Homo sapiens: one gene and its partner. The main gene of each other region encodes a partner of the protein of the gene in region 2 in a complex. Each region holds a gene or a part of one and is shown on either strand. Other genes may lie near its edges. The genes, in order: AGT and REN. A codon is read from its position in the direction of its gene.

What was found.
Region 1: the proteins of REN (region 2) and AGT are in contact, whole or in part, in a crystal structure (PDB 6I3F), measured with the Homo sapiens proteins. Residues at the interface, in NP_000528.1 of Homo sapiens: Tyr81 (codon at 7,195), Met82 (codon at 7,192), Thr84 (codon at 6,589), Gln85 (codon at 6,586), Val102 (codon at 6,535), Asp104 (codon at 6,529), Gly106 (codon at 6,523), Ser107 (codon at 6,520), Asn109 (codon at 6,514), Ser118 (codon at 6,487), Arg119 (codon at 6,484), Leu120 (codon at 6,481), Tyr121 (codon at 6,478), Thr122 (codon at 6,475), Val125 (codon at 6,466), Tyr126 (codon at 5,850), Leu147 (codon at 5,787), Arg148 (codon at 5,784), Tyr149 (codon at 5,781), Ser150 (codon at 5,778), Pro181 (codon at 4,721), Ala182 (codon at 4,718), Leu183 (codon at 4,715), Pro184 (codon at 4,712), Met186 (codon at 4,706), Leu187 (codon at 4,703), Ala188 (codon at 4,700), Glu189 (codon at 4,697), Phe190 (codon at 4,694), Val193 (codon at 4,685); in NP_001369746.2 of Homo sapiens: Asp25, Tyr28, Ile29, His30, Pro31, Phe32, His33, Leu34, Val35, Ile36, His37, Asn38, Glu39, Lys91, Leu92, Ala95, Met96, Met99, Leu100, Phe103, Arg107, Arg148, Ala151, Ile152, Gly154, Gln353, Gln354, Asn355, Asn358, Glu391.

The regions. Positions count from the first base shown.
Region 1 is NC_000001.11:230,702,132-230,712,417, reverse strand, and holds the end of AGT (angiotensinogen precursor), read left to right. Parts: intron 1-1,564; 5' UTR 1,565-1,594; coding exon 1,595-2,423; intron 2,424-6,217; coding exon 6,218-6,485; intron 6,486-8,080; coding exon 8,081-8,225; intron 8,226-9,088; coding exon 9,089-9,277; 3' UTR 9,278-9,895; downstream 9,896-10,286. UniProt on the Homo sapiens protein: Essential component of the renin-angiotensin system (RAS), a potent regulator of blood pressure, body fluid and electrolyte homeostasis.
Region 2 is NC_000001.11:204,154,827-204,165,112, forward strand, and holds part of REN (renin preproprotein), read right to left. Parts: intron 7,338-10,286; coding exon 7,187-7,337; intron 6,590-7,186; coding exon 6,466-6,589; intron 5,853-6,465; coding exon 5,734-5,852; intron 4,770-5,733; coding exon 4,573-4,769; intron 2,544-4,572; coding exon 2,535-2,543; intron 1,971-2,534; coding exon 1,851-1,970; intron 1,494-1,850; coding exon 1,352-1,493; intron 1,093-1,351; coding exon 994-1,092; intron 352-993; coding exon 190-351; 3' UTR 1-189. UniProt on the Homo sapiens protein: Renin is a highly specific endopeptidase, whose only known function is to generate angiotensin I from angiotensinogen in the plasma, initiating a cascade of reactions that produce an elevation of blood pressure and increased sodium retention by the kidney.

The DNA of each region.
Region 1 (10,286 bases), about 27 Mb from region 2:
CATGGGGAGTGGGGTGAGATGGTAGCTGAGGTCAGAATTTGGCATTTGAATGACTGAAGCAGAACAAAACACACCAGGTACTTCAGCAGCTGCACCGTGTTGAGGGCAGGTGCTGGTTACGGGTCTGGGTGAGGGAAGCCAGCTGCCAATGTAAGAAGAATGACTGGGTATGCTTAGATGAAGCAGAAAAATCTAGGCATCAAGGTGGCCTTGAGTCAGTGATGACACGCTACAGCTCCAAGGAAGCCTGGCCTAGCCCTGGGGGGACAGAAAAGGCCAAGAAGTGACGATATTGCAGTACACCCCCCTCCACAAGAAATGAGTGAGATGTGGTACAAAATGTTAGAATTGAATGAATCAATAGAATAAACGTTCATCCCTTCAATCAAGAAGAGTCAGATGAAATGAATTAGCAGGGCCAGCCCAAGAACCTCTTCTGGGGGTCTCAGGGTAGCTTTCATTTGTAGCAGCTGAGGCTGAAGCCCAGCTGCAAGGCCTTTGAGAGAACGTGGTGCTGGACCCGTGTCTAGGGCAGGGGTTCTAAACCCTGCTTACATATCAGAGTCACCTGAGAATTTTCTATTTTTTTTTTTTTTTTTTTATACGTGGTCCCAGCACAGACTAAGGAATCCAACTATCATTGGGCAAGCCATGCTAGGTATGCATGCCTTTGGGGCTCTGCAGGGGATAGCGCTATGCAGGGATGGTTGAGAGCTGGTTTTGGGGTTGAGACACGTGGGAAATACTTGGACTTTGGGCTGAGCCTGTGGTGCTCAATCCCGGCTGCATGTTGGGACCACAGGGAGATGACAAAACCATCCCCAGCCCTCACCCTAGGGCCCTCGAATGAGCATCTCAGGGGTCTAGGAGGCCTCCACAAAGACCTACTGATTGGCACACACTTGTTTCTCTAGGAAGAGAACTTACAGCTGCAGGCAGGAGCATGTCTTAATCTGCTTGGGCTGCCATAAGTACCACAGACTGGGAGGGTTTAACAACAGAAATGTGTTATCTCACAGTTCTGGAAGCTAGAAGCCTGGGAGCCAGCCATCAGCAGAGTTGGTTTCCTCTGGGTCCTCTATCCTTGGCTTGTAGATGGCCGTCTTCTCTCTGTGTCCCCACATGGTCTTCCCTCTGTGTCCCCACATGGTCTTCCCTCTGTGTGTGTCCATGTCCTCATCTCCTCTTCTCATAAGGACACAGGTCATATTAGATCAGGGCTCACCCTCATGGCCTCATTTTAACTTAATCATCTCTTTAAAGATCCTGTCTCCAAATAATGGTCACATTCTGAGGTCCTGGGGTTGAGGACTTCAACACGGGCATTATGGCCGTTGGGGGAGGTAGGACATAATTCAGCTGATATTGGTGCATTTTGCACTTGGATCATGTAGATATTTTCCATGGAGCTTTGAATCCATTTCTTCTTTTTTTTGTAGACATGAATGGATTTATTCTGGGCTAAATGGTGACAGGGAATATTGAGACAATGAAAGATCTGGTTAGATGGCACTTAAAGGTCAGTTAATAACCACCTTTCACCCTTTGCAAAATGATATTTCAGGGTATGCGGAAGCGAGCACCCCAGTCTGAGATGGCTCCTGCCGGTGTGAGCCTGAGGGCCACCATCCTCTGCCTCCTGGCCTGGGCTGGCCTGGCTGCAGGTGACCGGGTGTACATACACCCCTTCCACCTCGTCATCCACAATGAGAGTACCTGTGAGCAGCTGGCAAAGGCCAATGCCGGGAAGCCCAAAGACCCCACCTTCATACCTGCTCCAATTCAGGCCAAGACATCCCCTGTGGATGAAAAGGCCCTACAGGACCAGCTGGTGCTAGTCGCTGCAAAACTTGACACCGAAGACAAGTTGAGGGCCGCAATGGTCGGGATGCTGGCCAACTTCTTGGGCTTCCGTATATATGGCATGCACAGTGAGCTATGGGGCGTGGTCCATGGGGCCACCGTCCTCTCCCCAACGGCTGTCTTTGGCACCCTGGCCTCTCTCTATCTGGGAGCCTTGGACCACACAGCTGACAGGCTACAGGCAATCCTGGGTGTTCCTTGGAAGGACAAGAACTGCACCTCCCGGCTGGATGCGCACAAGGTCCTGTCTGCCCTGCAGGCTGTACAGGGCCTGCTAGTGGCCCAGGGCAGGGCTGATAGCCAGGCCCAGCTGCTGCTGTCCACGGTGGTGGGCGTGTTCACAGCCCCAGGCCTGCACCTGAAGCAGCCGTTTGTGCAGGGCCTGGCTCTCTATACCCCTGTGGTCCTCCCACGCTCTCTGGACTTCACAGAACTGGATGTTGCTGCTGAGAAGATTGACAGGTTCATGCAGGCTGTGACAGGATGGAAGACTGGCTGCTCCCTGATGGGAGCCAGTGTGGACAGCACCCTGGCTTTCAACACCTACGTCCACTTCCAAGGTAAGGCAAACCTCTCTGCTGGCTCTGGCCCTAGGACTTAGTATCCAATGTGTAGCTGAGATCAGCCAGTCAGGCCTTGGAGATGGGCAGGGGGCAGCCCTGCGGACATACCTGGTGACCACCCTTGAGAAGTGGGGAAGTGGCTGCTCCGCTGGGTCCCTGGATGGGCCGTCCACCTCCTGGACCTGCTGCCCTACTATGTGCACGACTATACAACATCCTTTTTCTTACATCATTTAATCCCCTTATGATGTGGTGAAGAGGTATTTGTGCCTTTGTTTACCAGTGAAGAAATAGAGACTCGGAGAAACAAAGTGCCTTGCTCAAGATGGCACAGCCACCAGTGGGGGTCCTGGGATTGAAACCCACATCTCCTGGCCCCACAGCCCAGTTCTACACTCAGAAGGGTCAGGTTCATATCTCTTGAGAAGGTCAGGAACTGGGGTCCCTGGCCCATGCAGAAATAAGCAATTGGCTTGCTTAAATCCCTTTCATGTTAGGAGGGGCATTACTGAAAACCCTCTACTACAAAGATTGTTGATTTTTTTTTTTTTTTTTATTGAGACAGGGTCTTGTTCTGTCACCCAGGCTGCAGTGTAGTGGTGCCATCATTGCTCACTGTAGCCTTGAACTCCTGGCCTCAAGCGATCCTCCCACCTCTGCCTTCCAAAGTGTTGGGATTAAAGGTGTGAGCCACTGCACCCAGCCACAGATTGCTTAAAGCATTCATTTAACAAATACTTGTTGAGGATTTGCTACTTGTAAGACTTTAAGCCTGGCATCTCAGAGGAGGCCAGAGGAGGGCTGTATAGGCCCTGCCTCCAGGCTTTTAAAGGTCAATGGGCAAATGCCTAGGATTTGGAGCTGCAGGGAAACGTGCTCCACAAGGTAACTCAGGGAAGCCTCGGGGCTCTCAGAGGACAGAGGTCACTGGGGAGCGGAGAGCAGGCCTTGCCTGGCAGTGAGGGCAACAGGGCTGGTGAAGCTAGGAGCAAGCATGATGAGCCCAGCCTGCAGAGTTTGGGGCAAGGAACGAGGATGGGGCGGTTGGCTTGGCATGAGTGTTGAACCAGAAAATGGGCCTGGGGAGGGCAGAGCTGGAGACACTTTGAACGCCATGCTTGGTAGGTGTGGGAATGGGGACGCGTTCTGTTCAGAGGTCATCCCGGAAGCCTGCCGTGTGCAGACTGGAGGCAGGGAGGATTGTTTGAAGGTTACGCAAGAGTCCAGGCACACAGTCACGGGAACACGTGCTCAGGGAGCAGCTCGGCAAATCCATGGGTGGGGTGGGGCTGAGGGGTGTGTCTAAGAGACACTGAGGAGGCTCTGTCAAGATGTTAACCTCGTGAGGGACAGAGAGCCAGGCGGGAGGTGAAAGACAAGACTGTGGAGAAAGAGGTTCAGTGGCGCATAGTGATTTTTCTTACCACAACAACCTCCTTGAGGTCTTTCCCTTCGGGTTCAGGGAGAGGTGATAGATGGGGGGATTGCTCAGCCCTGGCACTGACTGGTCACAGGGGCAGAGGCCAGCCCGAGGGTTGCCCGGTTGAGGGTGGCAGCACACTGTGCAGGGCAGAGCAGGGACACATGGACTTAGCCTGCTGTCCCTAGGAGAAGTGCTGGGAGGAGCGCTCACTGAGAAGGAGGGTCCTGCAGAAGGCAAAGGCAAGAAAGCCAGTGGCATCTGAAATGGGTCTCCCTTCGAAAGAGAGCACATCCACCTGACCCAGACCGCAGAGCCAGGCCAGGAGGAAGAGGAGGAAGAATAAAAAAGCCAACCACATCGGGACTCAAAGGAAGCCCAGGATCCTCGCCGGCCTCCACCGCATGCTGCCCTGACCCTGCCCCACTTCCTAACTTTGCTGGCCTCAGTTTCCGTCAAAGGAGGCAGCCACTTCCTGCCCACATGGTCTGTCCAGTGAGGAGATCGGGGGCTGTCTCGGGACCTCTAGGTTTCCCTTTAGCAATGATGTTCTATTTACATGACCTCAGCAGGCAGCTAGATGTGTCCCACTAGAGAGGACCTGAGGATCTGGGGCCTGATGGGCTCCAGGGTACCGTCTGCCCAGTGCTTGCTGTGCTCCTGAGCATGGGGCGCTGGCCCTGGTGGTTTCCATGACACCAGGTCCTGACTTGACCTCGACAGATTTACCTAGCCTCCGGATGAGAATGGTGAGCTGTGCATGTCAGACGAGCAGAGGGAAGACGGCAGCCACTCTCATGTCAAATCCCAGCGTCTTTTGGGAGGCAGCTTCCCTTTTTTAGTTTAGTTTGTTGGAAGAAAAGAATTGTCCCTTTCCCCCCTCTAAACTAAAAGCCTTGCCAGCCCAGGTGGGCAGCACCGAGGTCCCTGCAGGGAACGTGCAAGGGGAACCCTGCAGTTTCCCGCTCACATGCCCTTCCGAGACTGAGTGCTCCGAGGACTGAGGACGAGAAATATGCCAGGTCTGCCACTGCCTTCTTACGAGACCCGGACCCAGGGGAGGCACAGCCATGCCCAGCTCCTGCCTGCCAGTTCTGTCCTCCCAGCTGCCCTACTTTCATGCTGGGACCTCCAATTCAGTACAAAGGGAGACCTCACTGTTTCTGAACCATCTCTACTCAGACTCCCAAGTGCCACGTGCCCAGGGGACTGTTCTGTGACAAACTTATACACAACTTCACCCTATTCTCCTAAGAACAACCGCAGAATAGGCCTTTCAGGATGAGTGGGAGGACAGCCGAGGGCAGGGATGTGCTAGTGTAAGGTCGAGGCAGAGGGTGGGCTGCTGTCATGGAAAGACCCCAGGTAACTGCGTCACACACAAATTTGTGTCCTTCTCCCACAACGGGCTCTCCCGAGTTCTCTGTCATCTGCACGGCCCTGTGAGCAGGAGGGGAAACAGAGGGCTCACCCCTGCCCCCAAGGCCCAGTGTGCAAATCCATTCATCACAACGAGGTTGTGTGAGTCTCCCCAGTAGCAAGGGCTGCTGAGGAATGGAGCCCTCGTTTCCGGGGCCTGCGTGGCCCACTCTGTATTCTATGACTGTGATGGGGGAGGGTGGGGGCCACAGGACAGCTGGTGGGCTCTGCCATGGCTGGGGCTAGACATGGATTAAAAAGTGAGTATGAGCAGGGGCCTCTAGGAGTGGTGGGATAGTGCGGTGGTGGCCACATGTCATTCTACGTGCGTCCAAACCTACAGAATGTAAAACACCAGGAGGGAGACTCAAAGAAAACTATCAACTTTGAGTGCTGAGGACGTGTCAGTGTAGGTTCGTCAGTTGCAACAAATGGGCCACGCTGGTGTGAGATGTTGATCACGGGGGAGGCTGTGTAGTGGGGGACAAGAGTTATATGGGAACTTTCTGTACTTTCTGCTCGATTTTGCTGTGAACCTAAAGTCACTCTAAAAAATAACATCTCTTAAATTTTTTAAAAAGTGAGTGTGTCAAACCACAGCCTTTGGGTCAGGACAGTTCTAGGTTTGAGTTGACCTGGCAGGTACCAGTGGCTTATGTCCCTTAAGGTGACAGATGCAAAACCCCCGGTTTGGTGCCTGGCATGTTGTGTGTCTTGCAGGTGGCGGTTAGGGCTGCCTCAGTGAACTCAAATGGCTGCATTTTACAGGAGAAATATTTGAGCCACACTTGCGGTCCTGTGGCCAGGAGAATGCAGAGTGGCCTGGGGGGGGCCAAGGAAGGAGGCTGAGGCAGGGCGAGGGGCAGGATCTGGGCCTTTGGTGTCTGCCAGCCCTCATTCCTGCCCCTGTCTTGGGTGACTCTTCCCTCCCTGTCTCCTGTCTGGATTTCAGGGAAGATGAAGGGCTTCTCCCTGCTGGCCGAGCCCCAGGAGTTCTGGGTGGACAACAGCACCTCAGTGTCTGTTCCCATGCTCTCTGGCATGGGCACCTTCCAGCACTGGAGTGACATCCAGGACAACTTCTCGGTGACTCAAGTGCCCTTCACTGAGAGCGCCTGCCTGCTGCTGATCCAGCCTCACTATGCCTCTGACCTGGACAAGGTGGAGGGTCTCACTTTCCAGCAAAACTCCCTCAACTGGATGAAGAAACTATCTCCCCGGTAGGAGCCTCCCGGTCTCCCCTGGAATGTGGGAGCCACACTGTCCTGCCCAGGCTGGGGGCGGGGTGGGGAGTAGACACACCTGAGCTGAGCCTTGGGTGCAGAGCAGGGCAGGGCCGCGGTGGCACGGGGCTGGGCAGGCGGCCTGTGTGTCTGTCTACCAGTCCTCTATCCAGCCAGCACCCAGCTCTCCAGTTAGTGTCTGTCTTTCAAGTGCAGGCAAGGTAAAGGAGGAGAGGAAGAATGCTTTTTCTACACTTACACTTGCCTGGTAGTTTTGGAGGGGGAGAAAACATTGCAATCCGCCCTCTGAGAGAGGACCATTTTGGTCCCACACCTGACACACAGCACACCTGTGACATCCAAGAGCTTCTTGGAACTGACTTGCCAGGAGGGTTCGGACTTCGCGTGAGCGGGGGTGGGGCCTTCTCAGGGAGCGTCCCTTGACTCCAGAACGCCCTTGCTGGCGGCTGGCGGCTGGGTGGGGATAGGTGTTGTTAGCTCCTCTTTCCTGCTGCAATTCCTTTCCACAGAGCCCTGGACTCAAACTACACATCACCCCAGATCATCGAGGCCTGGAAATCTGCTCCCAGAGGCAGGCATTGAGTGACACGATGGCTTGACATCAACTCTGGGTGTTTTTTATGTTTTAAAAATTGTGATGGTAAAATATACGTAACAAAATTTGCCATCGTAACCATTTTCGAGTGCACAGTTCAGTGGTACTAGGCCCATTCACACTGTTGTGCAGCCATCACCCCCGTCCATCTCCATTTATCTTCTCAACTTCCCAAACTGAAGCTCTGTCCTGCTGAAACACTAACTCTCCATTTCCCCTTCCCCTTGGCCCCGGCAACCACCACGATGTCCTCGAGGTTCACCCATGTTGTAGCACATGTCAGAATGTCCTTCCTTTTGAAGGCTGAATAATATTCCATTGCATGTGGTTACCACCTTTTGTGTATCCACTCATCCATCGATGGACACGTGGGTTGCTTCCACCTTTGAGCTGCTGTGAATAGTGCAGTGTACCCTGTAAACATGGGTGTACTGTCAGCTCTTATAAGTGCTTGATACATCACTGGAAATGTCCATGGGCTCTGAAGGATGCCAAAAGATGGAAGAGGCTCTATACGAAGATCAATCGAGTTGACATAGCAACGTGTCCAGCACGAGGTTGACACTGTACCCTCCTGCCTCTCTCCTTTTCATGGGTGTCATGTCATCAAGAACACTGCTGTGGCAGTAGTAAGACACAGTGCATTATTTCAGAGAATAGCATTTAAAAATTACCCAAGTAACACACCTTCAATGCAGCCAACCTAAAAACAGAATGCACCAAAGGACAACCATTCCTAGGTCCTCATCGGTAAATCTTCTATGTCCCTCACATAGTATTGCAAATGACATGAAGGATTTTTATTGTAGGTTTTGCTGAAATTTTCCCCAAGGGGGAGGATGACTTAGTTGGGTGATGGGGGGAGCAAACATCCCTGTCGTCAGGGTTGGGTGCAAGGAGCATAAGCCTGCCTGGCCTCTGGGAGAGCCCTCACTGTGTGGCCTGGAGCCTTCCTAACTGTGCATCATCTCCCCAGGACCATCCACCTGACCATGCCCCAACTGGTGCTGCAAGGATCTTATGACCTGCAGGACCTGCTCGCCCAGGCTGAGCTGCCCGCCATTCTGCACACCGAGCTGAACCTGCAAAAATTGAGCAATGACCGCATCAGGGTGGGGGAGGTATGTGTGAGCCTGTGTCTGTGCCTGACCTGGGTTCCAAGTGTGCACAGGGTGGGAGGCATGGATGTAAGGGACACAGAGGAGGCTATGGGTGGGGCCAGCAGGGCAAGAGGGAGCGGAGAGTAGGGCCAAAGGTGGGAGAGAAGTAGCCAGAGCATTCTGGGGCCTTCCAGGTGCAGAGCAGCAAATCCCTCCCCATCCCTGCTGTGCCTCCTCCTGCTAGGTGTGTGTTCCATGGTCCTGCTTGGCCTTGCCTTGCCTCAGGGTCCTCCAGGGTTCCTATAGTGGAGTTGAAACCGGGATGAAGACAGCAAGCACCCCTGGACCTGGTGCCCTGGGCCCAGCCCCTTCTTCAGGGAAATGCTGAGCAGCAGACAGAATGTCCCCCTGCCATGTGGCACCATGCACATCTGCAGCTACCAAGGATGTGCCTTGATGTTCTGGGCCCTGTGCTCAGTGCTGGGGAGAAAGTGGGAGTTCTTACGGGGGCCAGCGGGAAGAGCCCTCTGTGCTAAGTTAGCTAAGCCCTGGCACTGGTGGGCCATGGCCAAGGGAGCCAGGAATTCTGCCTGGGACATCAGGGCAGAATGTGAAGATGGGAGGATGTAAGGGGTGTGTTAGGGAGGAGCCGGCATGTGAGTTTGGCCATTGTGGCCAATTAACGGTCATCTACACACAGACACACCCTTGCCTACACTGAGGGGCAGGCATACACTGTGCATCCTCCTGGCAGGCTGGAAAATGTCCCCCTCCAGGACAGTGCACAGCACAGAGGTCCTGAGCCCACCCCGGCCCTCTAGCCCTCAGCACCCTGGGTCACCCAGTGCGCCCTCAGAATGATCCTGATGTCTGCTGCTTTGCAGGTGCTGAACAGCATTTTTTTTGAGCTTGAAGCGGATGAGAGAGAGCCCACAGAGTCTACCCAACAGCTTAACAAGCCTGAGGTCTTGGAGGTGACCCTGAACCGCCCATTCCTGTTTGCTGTGTATGATCAAAGCGCCACTGCCCTGCACTTCCTGGGCCGCGTGGCCAACCCGCTGAGCACAGCATGAGGCCAGGGCCCCAGAACACAGTGCCTGGCAAGGCCTCTGCCCCTGGCCTTTGAGGCAAAGGCCAGCAGCAGATAACAACCCCGGACAAATCAGCGATGTGTCACCCCCAGTCTCCCACCTTTTCTTCTAATGAGTCGACTTTGAGCTGGAAAGCAGCCGTTTCTCCTTGGTCTAAGTGTGCTGCATGGAGTGAGCAGTAGAAGCCTGCAGCGGCACAAATGCACCTCCCAGTTTGCTGGGTTTATTTTAGAGAATGGGGGTGGGGAGGCAAGAACCAGTGTTTAGCGCGGGACTACTGTTCCAAAAAGAATTCCAACCGACCAGCTTGTTTGTGAAACAAAAAAGTGTTCCCTTTTCAAGTTGAGAACAAAAATTGGGTTTTAAAATTAAAGTATACATTTTTGCATTGCCTTCGGTTTGTATTTAGTGTCTTGAATGTAAGAACATGACCTCCGTGTAGTGTCTGTAATACCTTAGTTTTTTCCACAGATGCTTGTGATTTTTGAACAATACGTGAAAGATGCAAGCACCTGAATTTCTGTTTGAATGCGGAACCATAGCTGGTTATTTCTCCCTTGTGTTAGTAATAAACGTCTTGCCACAATAAGCCTCCAAAAATTTTATCTTTCATTTAGCAGCCAAACAGATGTATACAATTCAGCAGATAGACTGTGCAAACGAAAGTGCTTTCCTGGACTTTGGATGGAATTTCCATGGGAGGTCTGAGCCAGTACTTAGCAGTCCTTTGAAGTTTTAGGTGATGCTTTTCTCTGGACACTTCCATTGGTAAGCAGTGGTGGCCATCTGTGTGATGGACAGGGGGCGGGAAGAGGGTGACAGGGAAGGCCCCATACCCCATGTGGCACCTGGGAAAGGAACCAGGCAGATGGGACTTCTTCCGTCCTGGTGACACAGGGCCAGACTGCTGCTGGTATTGTGCCCCGGGAGTGGAAGGTAGAGAAATAAATCTTCACAAATAAATATTTGCAATTTTCCCCCATCTGTTGAG
Region 2 (10,286 bases):
TGAAGTCTTTATTCTCTTTGTCCTCAAAGCAGGGAAGGGCTGGTGCAGGGGTCAGGGCACGCATCCAGCAGGAGCTCCACATCCAATGTCTCCATCTGAGGGCATAAGCCCAGGCAGAGGGGCATCTCAGAGAGTGTTCCAGCTCTGGGCCAGGGCTGAAGGCAGGGCCTGCCTGGGTGGCAGAGGGCCTCAGCGGGCCAAGGCGAAGCCAATGCGGTTGTTACGCCGATCAAACTCTGTGTAGAACTTTCGGATGAAGGTGGCCCCCAGGGCCCAGGTGGGTCCAGTGGGTGGCGGGATATCCATGGCGTGGATGGCCAGTGTGCACAGCTTTTTACTACTGTAGGATTCCTGGCAGGAAGGGGGAGAGTTTCTCCATACCCAGCACATGAGCATTCTCCTTTCACCTTGCCTGACCCCCAGCAACTGTCTTCAGCAACATTCCCCCTCTCGCCCCCATCTCTCCCCTAGCCACACTGGGCCTCCCTCACATCATGGCCATTTTGCCCCATCGTGGACTGCACCACTCCTATGTTTAGCCCCTGTGCTAGATCCCAGGCAAACAATGCATCAGGCACCGTGCTTCCTTCAGGAGCTTACAGTTTGCCTTAGCTTCTGATCCTAGACAAGTTATTCAACTTCTCTAAGCCTATTGATTATGAAAAGAGGGTAAGAATATAGGAGCATAGGATTCTTGGGAGTATTTGATGAGAAAATGGAGATGAGGGAACAGGCATAGTGATGCCCAAACATGGCCACACATTGGAATCACCTGGGGAAACTGAACCCCAGGTGCCACTTCTAGAGGTTCTGATTTAATAGGTATGGGATGTGGCCCAGGTACCAGGATTTTTCAAAGCTCTCCAGGTGACATGCACAGCCAAGTTTGAGAACTACAGTTCTAACATGACCTGTGCATTGTAATCTGTCACTCTTTGAGGGTCTCTGTCCAGCCTTTCTCCCTGCCACCGAGGGGGCCGACTCGAACCTCACCTGAAATACATAGTCCGCGCTGGTGAGCGTGTATTCTTTGCCTCCCAGGTGGAAAGAGATGTCGGGGAGTGTAGGGCCCTCGTTACACTTCACGACATACTGGGGTGGGGGGCAAAGAGAGCCTTCTTGAGTATGGAAGACGTCTCAGCAGACAAGGAGTCCTGCGCTGGTGGCCTGGTCTCTCTGCTGGAGAGGGCTGGGGACAGTGCCCCGCCCCATGGGTGACCAGCCACATGTGTGGAGAGTGTGAGGTGAACAAGCGAAGGCCTGAGATGGCCTCATTTGCCTGGGGGATTTGTGAGCCGATACCAGGTGGCGCTCCCCCCACCCACAGCACCTTCCCTCTTTGGCTTCTTACATCAAACAGCCTCTTCTTGGCTCCCAAGGCCTCCATGAGCTTCTCTATGGAGCTGGTAGAACCTGAGATGTAGGATGCACCGGTGTCTACCAATGCCAGGCAGCCGTCTTCACAGAGCAAGGTGGATGACCCCACAGACACCCTGGGGGAGGCCACAGTCAGACAGACAGACAGACAGACAGACAGAAGGCTGATGGGGCACCTCCAGGCTGCATGTCCTTCCTGAGTGTGGGTGGGTGGGTGGAGGCCACGCTGGTGGCCTGTTGAGGCAGTGAGTAGAGGAGGGAAGGTACTGTCACCCTCCACCACTTCTCCCCAGGCCCCTCCCTTCTCTGTTCCCCAGCCTGGACAGAGCAGGCAGAGAGCAAATGGTGGCTGTGCTTAAGAAGTGGCTGCATTTGGAAAGAGGGCAGGATGGTAATGCAGTCCTTCCCCACCCTCCCCAACCCCAGTGACGGCAGCATTTTTTGGAGCCCGGGGAGGGTTGAGGATTTCTGACCCCTTCATTTGAATCTGCCAGACACCAGTCTTGATGAGGTTGATATAGTGGAAATTCCCTTCGTAATGCTGGGGGTCGCTGCCTCCCAGCACAATCTGTCCTCCCAGCGATTGGGAATTCCTAAAGGAAAGATCAGAAGCTCTTGGAAACCCATAACCTCCAGGACCCAGCAACTCAGGCAATTGGGGAAGGTTGCACAAGGGTGCAGGGGAGGACAGAGGGCTCTAGAGCAGAGGAATGTGGGACAGACAGCCAGGCTCGGAGCTGTCGTTGGGAAGCATGCAGAACATACTGCTTCTCTGCCTTTCTTCCCCTCCCCAAGACCAACCAGAGGTTGTTCCAGGGTAGTCCAGCTGTTCCCCCAAAAAGCATCCCCAGAGAGGTCACAGAAAAGGAGCAGGTACAAGGACAGTGAGTGGATGTGAACAAGACACAAATGGACACCCCTCACTCTTGGGTTGCTGCTGATTGAGCAGGTGCATGGGAGGGGACCCTGGGGAGGCTATTGGGTATGGGGTGGGCAGGTGGCATGGAGAGAGCAGGAAGGAGAGACAGAGAACTTCGGCATCTAGCGGAGGCTGGGCTTGCTGATGTGAGTTTTGGGCCGGTGGCGTGTGTAATTCTAGGTCAGGTGCTCGGGGAGTACTGGAAGGTCACAGCCATGTGGGGGTTTTGTCTCCTTACTCGGAATCTCTGCAGAGAAAGAGAGACAGCAGAAAGGAAGCTTCATTTCATGCCAGCCTCATCAGCCCTGCTGTTTGGCAGGGTGGGTGTTATGTACTCTCTTTGCCCTTCAGGCAATGGAGTCACCAAGAGGCGAAGTCACTTGCCTGAAGTTACCCAGTCCATGAGTGAACAAGTGGGGGACTGGAGCCAGGCTCCTGGTGCCCCGTCTGGAGCTGATTCCCCTCACCTTCCTTTCCTCCTCACTGCACTTGGCTCAGGGACTACTGTAGGCCTAGTCTCCAGGGCATGCCTGTGTGTGTGATGTGTTTTTCCAGAATTCATACTAGAATTCACACATGCACATGTGTGCATGGGTGTGTAGGTGTGCATATGTTATTTTGTGCAACTGCAAACTACTTGTGTTTTTATAAATTCGGAATGTATGTGTATATGCTAGCACAAATTCCCTCCTGCCTGTCTCTCAACACTTCAGTATCTCTCTGGATGTTCCCTCCTTCCCATCCCAAGATAAAAGAAGAGGCCAGCCCTCTCCTCTGCAAAACCTGGCTTCTTCCTGTCTGCTGGAACCTCATCTCTTTCAAGGCCTCCAAACTCCAGTGCCCCCATTTAGCTCCTCTTCTTTCCACATTTTTAATCTCTTTCTTTCCATTGGCTTCTTCCTCCACCTACAGGCATCACTCGAGCATCCTCTAGCATTTAAAAACACCCACCCTTCCTCTTCTGCTTCTGGATCTCACCCCCCACGCCACCCCCCATTCCCTTCCCTGTTGAATGTCCCAGGGCAGCCTACATCTCATGACCTCCACTTCCTGACACCCACGTCGTCCACCTCTTAACTTCTTGCCATCTGGCCTTGCCCCCACTTCCTCTAAAACAGTTCTTCTAAAGACCACCCCTGAATGCAGAGCCGCCAATTGGCCTTTTCTCAAGGCCTCACTTTCTATCACCAAACCGGAGACTCCTCTCCATTTTACTGTGAGATTTCTCTGAACTCTGATCCTCTCCTCTATTCTTTTTGCCACTGGCCTCATGTTCTTACCCTTGTGACTTTTTTTTTTTTTTTTTTTTTTTTGAGACTGGATCTCACTCTGTTGCCTTAGCTGGAGTGCAGTGGCACAATCACTGCTCACTGAAGCCTTAACTCCTGGGCTCATGCGATCCTCTCGCCTTGGCCTCCCAAAGTGCTGGGATTACAGGCATGAGCCACTGCACCCAGCCCCTTTTGCCTCCAGCTCTCTTGTCTCCAACTCATGCCATCTTTCTAAGCCCAGCAGTTTGGAGTAGAGCCCAACCCTGCTCAAGAGCTTCCCCAAGGCTGGCTGAGCTGCATATAAGCTCAGCCTAGAATTGAAAAGCATCCATGGTTTTCAGCACCACACTTGCTGCCTGCCTGTGACACTCTTTATGTTGGAATATGTCTTGTCTTCCCTGTTAGCCTGTAAGCTCTATGTGGGTAGGGGAGTACAGATTCTGCCTTGTTCACTGTGTTCACTGCTGCACCCCCAGAGCCTACCACAGTGCTTGGCACATAGCATTTACTGAACTGATGAGTGAGCAAACAAACGAATGAAGGATCTAATGGATGACTGAAGTTGGCTGTCTCTGTGTGGGAGGAGCCATGGCCCTAACAGGCAGGGCTACAGGTCACAGTAATCCCTTATTTACCATCGCCCCCACCTTGCATCTCCTCTTGCTCCAGAGTGGCGCTGTCTATTAGAATGTCCTGTCATGCTGGGAATATTCTCTATCTGCACTGTCATAAGACTGTAGTTACTAGCCACCGTGGCTGCCAGGCATTTGACGTGTGGCTAGTACAACTAAGAGCCACCAGTTGAATGCTTAATTGATGCTTAACTGTATTTAATTAATTTAAATTTCAATAGTGCCTTCCATATTGGCTAGTACAGCTCTAGATATTGATTGGCTGTCACCTAATTACAAACACTTTACAATTCTGGCCCAGACTCTCCTTCCACTCCCCATCTCTTCTCCCCTCCTGTCCCCCCACCTCAGCCCTTGGAGTCCCAGTCCCCACCTGTTGTAGTAGAAAGAGAAGACGTCCTCTTTTAGCACCCCTTGGGAGATGATGTTGTCGAAGATAGGGGTGACCCTGCCAATGGCCTGTTCAATGAAGCCCATGCCCACAACCCCATCAAACTCGGCCAGCATGAAGGGTAAGGCGGGCATCTCCGTGACCTCTCCAAACATCTGTGTCACCGTGATTCCACCCACCTGTGGGAGGAAGGACCAGAGGAGACCAAGCCCACTGCCCACTCCTTGGTTGGAGTCTGGTCTGGGCTTCCACACTAGGGATCCCAGGGGCACACATGCTCCAGGGTACAGAAATCGGGGTAAGAGTATTTCCTCAACCCTGCACGCACACACTCTGTGCCAATACACATCTCTGCTGCGGAGCCCAGAGAGAGCTAGAGTTGACCAGGGATCGGAGAGCAGAGGCTGAGAGGGTGGTCCTGCCAAGCAGCAAAAGAAAAGCTGCCAAGAGCTCCTCCCCTCCCCAGTGGCCAGACTTTCGTGCCTGGCAGGACTGGGTCTTGGCCCCCACCCTTATCATGGGCGAAGGGTTTCTTTAGCACAGACAAGCTTGCCCTTCTCCCTCCTTTATATCTGAGTTCACAGAAAAAGGAAGGGAGGCAGGAATCACCCTGATTTCCTCTCAGGTGCCACGTGTGCCCCTCCCCTAACTCTGATGGAGCAGGGCCTGAGAAACTCCAGGATGAGGAAACGGTCAGACATGGGCCACATGGAAAAGAAAAGCAGGCCTTGACCTGAGTCCCAGAGTCAACCTCAACTGTGACCTTAAAACCTATGCCTGACCCTAAAACTCAGCCTGACTCTGACCCTGGATTTCAGTCTAGGGTGTAGCCCAGTCAGAGCTGGTGAACTTGGACGAGTTACTTGACTGCAGCCACGGGGCTCAGGACAAGCCCTACATGCAAGTTAGATGCAAAAACATCCACAAACCACCCAACGGTGAGCCCGTAGCCCAGGCTTGCTCCCCCATAGGTACTGCTGCTTTGCAGCAACAGCCAGATGTGGCAGAGTAGGGTGTTCCTCAGCTCCCCAGGCTCCAAGTGGGCTGCAGTGTACCTCCCCGCAGGTGTGGGCCCTGGAGGGTCAGGAGAGGCCTGGGGACAGAAGGGGTCCGGGGCAGATGACCTAGGGCGGCCCAACTTACGGTGATGATGTCCTGGCTGAGAAAGCCACTGACTGTCCCTGTTGAATAGCGGAGGGTGAGTTCTGTTCCATTGTGCTTGTAGCTGGAGGAATCCGAAGCATCGAAGAGCTTGTGATACACTGGCAGGGGGACAGAGGCTCAGGTTTGTCCAAGAGTGGCCCAGACAGGGGGACTCAGAGGCAGGGTGCATTGTGGGTATGGCTGGTTAGCTTAGGTGCAGGGATGAGTGGCCCTAGGGTCAGGGGGCTTGGAATATGTGCTTCATCAATCAAGGACTGGGTTTCTTGGGCTCTCCTAATGTGCCCATACATCGAGAATTTTGTCCTAAATGAAGGAATTTAAAGTAATCACTAACACTGATAACACCAGAGAAGATGCCAGGCACAGAGTAAGTGCCTAGTAAGAGGTTGTTGATTAAGACTAGGGATGGAAGAGTTCCGAGTGCCTGGGATGGGTTTGAGAATTCAGTCCTGTCTCAATCTCAGGAAGACTGGGAAGTGGCCTTCTGGGTGCTCAGGGGTTCTTGGACCTTTTTTTGTTTTTAACCTTGGTGGCTGTATCAGAAAAACGGGAGACATCTTCCCCTCTCCCCTACATGTCAGTGGGCACAGAGGCAGAGAGGAAGCCACTCCCTTGGTGGCAAGAGGGATGGGAGCTGGGTGTTGGGCAGGATTGCTCATGCACAGTAGGGCAGGGGGATGGAGGAGAGGCACTGTGGGTCTTAGGTCTCACCACAGGCAGTGTAGAGACGGCTGCACTTGGAGGAGGGCACCCAAACATTGGACGAACCAGTGTCAAAGACGACTTTGAAGGTCTGGGGTGGGGTGCCGATGCCAATCTCGCCATAGTACTGGGTCTGTGGGGGTAAAAAGAGAGGGCTGGAGGGGCTCAGGGGACCTTGGGTCTTGGGGTCTTGCCTGGCTTCACTCTTGGCTCTCGGTGTGAGACTTGGCCCAGGCGAGGTCCTATAGCCTCTCGGGGTTTCCATTTTCCTGCAGGAACTGGTAGGAGGCTTAGCATCTCCCCATGGCATCCCAGAAAGTGGGAGTCTCAGTAAGACAAGAGGGCAAAATCAAAACATTGAGAATGAAGCAGGAAGCAAACTTGACTCTTGAGGATCCTCTGGGGCAGGAAGCCATCAGGTTGTGCTGGGCCAGGTCACAGAAACCCCCACCTGAGTCACACACCCCTTCCCACCCACCTGTGACACCTGGCTTGAGGCCTGGGCTGAGTTCCAAACCTAACCCTGCCCCTGAATGGCCCCTGGATGCCTTCCTGTCTTCTGTGCTCAGGCTTTCCAGCTGGAAAATGGGAATTTTCTAGGGTGCTCACGTGCTACTCAGCGCCTTCGTCAAACACAGCTTGGAAAGGGTGAGTCTTGCAGCAAAGAAAGCCCTAGGTCCATGAGGGAAAGGAGACAGGGAGGGAGCGAGGGGCTGAGCCAAGCACTCACGTCCATGTAGTTGGTGAGGATCACGGAGGAGGTGGTGTTGCCAAGTGTCAGCCTCTTCATGGGTTGGCTCCACTCGGGACCAAGCCTGGCCATGTCCACACCTCGTTCCTTCAGGCTTTCTCGGATTGAGGGCATTCTCTTGAGGAAGATCCTGGCCCAGGGTGGAGGAAGCAAAAATAGAAAAGTGCTGTACCTCCACCACAGTGGTGGAGTCCCTGAGGCCAAACCCCTGCTTTTAGTACAACCACCTTTAACGTTAGCCCAGCCACCTGGAAATCACCTCTGTCGCTGAGGGCCTCTGGAGCATTTATAAGAGTTACTTCTTGTCAAGAGTCAATTTAGAGGAGTCAGCTGCCCGGGGATTAAATAACCCTGAAGTGACTTCCTTCTGTTGCCTAATTTTGATTAGACAAGGCTATTTGTTTATTGGTCCGTTCATTCATTTATTCCGTAATCACCTGCTGAACAACTACTTTGTGCCTCACTGTGCTGGACACTGGAGCTAGAAAGATAATGATCATGACTGCCTTTAAGGAACTCCACCTGGCGGGAGGACAGACAGGAAACAGGCACAGACATTCCCTCTGAAGAGATTAATGCCAGGGAGTGCCCCTGTCAAAACTAGGGGCTGGCGGGGAGACAGTGCCATGGGAGGCCGCTAGGTGGCAGCAGATGCCCACAGCAGCTGCAAGGTCTCCAGGATACCAGGGGACAGGCACCCAGCCAGGGCTGTGGTGGAGTGGACCCCCTGAGCTGGGTTGGGCCTAGAGAGATGCCAGCATCTTCAGAGCGCCATGCACCTCGTCCTTGGAGAGATGTGTCCCGGTCCCTTGGCTTCTTGTCTAGATGTTTTCCCATCACCTTTGAGAGGCAGAATTAAAGAGACCTAGGAAACTGACTCTACTGAGCCGCTACTGAAATCACACCAACAAGCTAGCTGTCATCCATTTTATAGATGAGAAAAATGAAGGCTCACAGGGACAAAGGTGACTCAGAAATGTTGAAGCAGGGATTCAGAGCATGTGTCTGGCCCTATTTCCCATATAGGGTCCCCTGGGTCCCGACATAAAGGCTGCCAAAGCCCAGAGGAAGATGTCTCTAGCTGTTCACGGGAAGGTCCCAGGATGGAAGCCCAAGTTGACTCTGCAATAGACTTTCCCATACACACAAAGATTCCCTCTTTCTTCTACTTTCTTCTCAGTGGCTAGTCCTCCTATACTCACACTACCCTTTCCTTCCTACATCCTTCTTGCGTCCCATGCATTCTACTTACCCCCATTTTGCCCATGAACATGAATGCAACTTTTATGCCTATCAGCATGGTATTGTAACAGAAATGATTTGTTATCTTCCTATCACAGGTTACTGTTACCAAAATATTTTCACAATCATTATTTTATTTGCTCTCATAAGGTGGATGATTTTATTACTCCCACTTCACAGCTGGGAACGTGGAGGGTCAGAGGTTTGGCCCCAAAGAGGTTGCATTTCCCACTGTTTACTCACAACAGCCTATGCTTTGGACCTTTACTTCTTGCCATTTCCTTTTCAGAAAATCCTTTCCTTCTTCCCTTCCTTTTCCCCCCAGTTCTTTAGTCCTCCAAGGCCCAACATGTACCCCCACCTCCAGGAAGCTTACCCCAAGGCCTCCAGCCCACACCGGCCTCACCTTCCCGTGGGCCTCAGCTCTGTTTTTCCTTGGGTCTCACAGCCCACACTGTACAGCTTGTGGAACTGGTGCCGTACGGTGGTGAAGACAGTGGTTGCAGGGGGCATGCCTGAATCCCCTTACCACTTATGTGATTCTGAGAAAGCTACCTAACCTCTCTGGGCCTCTTCTAAGTCTCCATTAACCCCTCTCTAACAATGGGCCTAATGGTAGTACCTACCTCAGAGTCACTGTGCAGATGAAACCATGCGACCACTGCTCAATAAATGTAAATTGTAGGTGTGTATATGTACATGTTCACCTTGAGAATGGAGCTCATTCATTCAGCTGTCCCAAGTGCCTCGCATGATGCTCTGCACATAGCGGGTAGCAAAATTCCTATAATACTGTTTCAAAAGCTGGATTCCCCCTCCACCCCTTGCCCAATTCCATTCTTTTTCTCTTTTGGATAACAGCAGGGGAAGATGTTTTTACTTTCCTCTACCTTTATCCTGGAGTGCAGCTGCTTTGAAGCACCCATCCTCTTACCCAGTGCTCACAACCCAGCAATTACTCTCCGAGAGCCTCAGAGCAAGGGAAAGCAGTTTCGGAAGCAAAAGGCCCAGTGTGTGTTGAGGCTTAGCCTCTTACATATCACCTCCCTGAGCCTCAGTGTCCTCATCTGCAAAGTGGGAATGCTGAGTTGTTGGGGGCATGACTTGAGATGAGACATGTGAAAAGATCCTGTGACACCCTAAGCATTTTATAGGCTTAGCAACTATTACCATTATTAAAGTGTGCCTCCCTACCTTCAGGACTGCTGGTCATATCTGCTGTCCCCAGATTGAAAACCCCTTTCTCTGTGAGGCCTTTTCTCAAATGCTGTCTCTTCCCCTTCTTCAGTCTTTTTTTTTTTTTTTTTTTTTTTTACATAAGGTCTGGCTCTATCACCCAGGCTAGAGCACAGTGGGTCAGTCTCTGCTCACTGCAGCCTCCACCTCCCAGGCTGAAGTGATGCTCCCACCTCAGCCTCCCGAGTAGCTGGGACTACAGATTTGCACCACCACACCTAGCTAATTTTTGTATTTGTACAGACAAGGTTTCACCATGTTGCCTAGGCTGGTCTTGAACTCGTGAGCTCAAGCGATCTGCCCACCTCAGCCTCTCAAAGTGCTGGAATTACAAGCATGAGCCGCGTGCCCAGCTTCCTTCTACAGTCTTAATGAATCACTTGTTCCCACAAGGCCTGGCACCTAGGGGATGCTAAGGTTTTCTCCTTCTAATTGTGGGCTACCTAAAGCCTTGTTTTTTTCTTTCTTTTTTTTTTTTAGACTGAGTTTTGCTCTTGTTGACCAGGCTGGAGTGCAATGGCGCTATGTCGGCTCACTGCAACCTCAGCCTCCCAGGTTCAAGCGATTCTCCTGCCTCAGCCTCCCAAGTAGCTGGAATTAC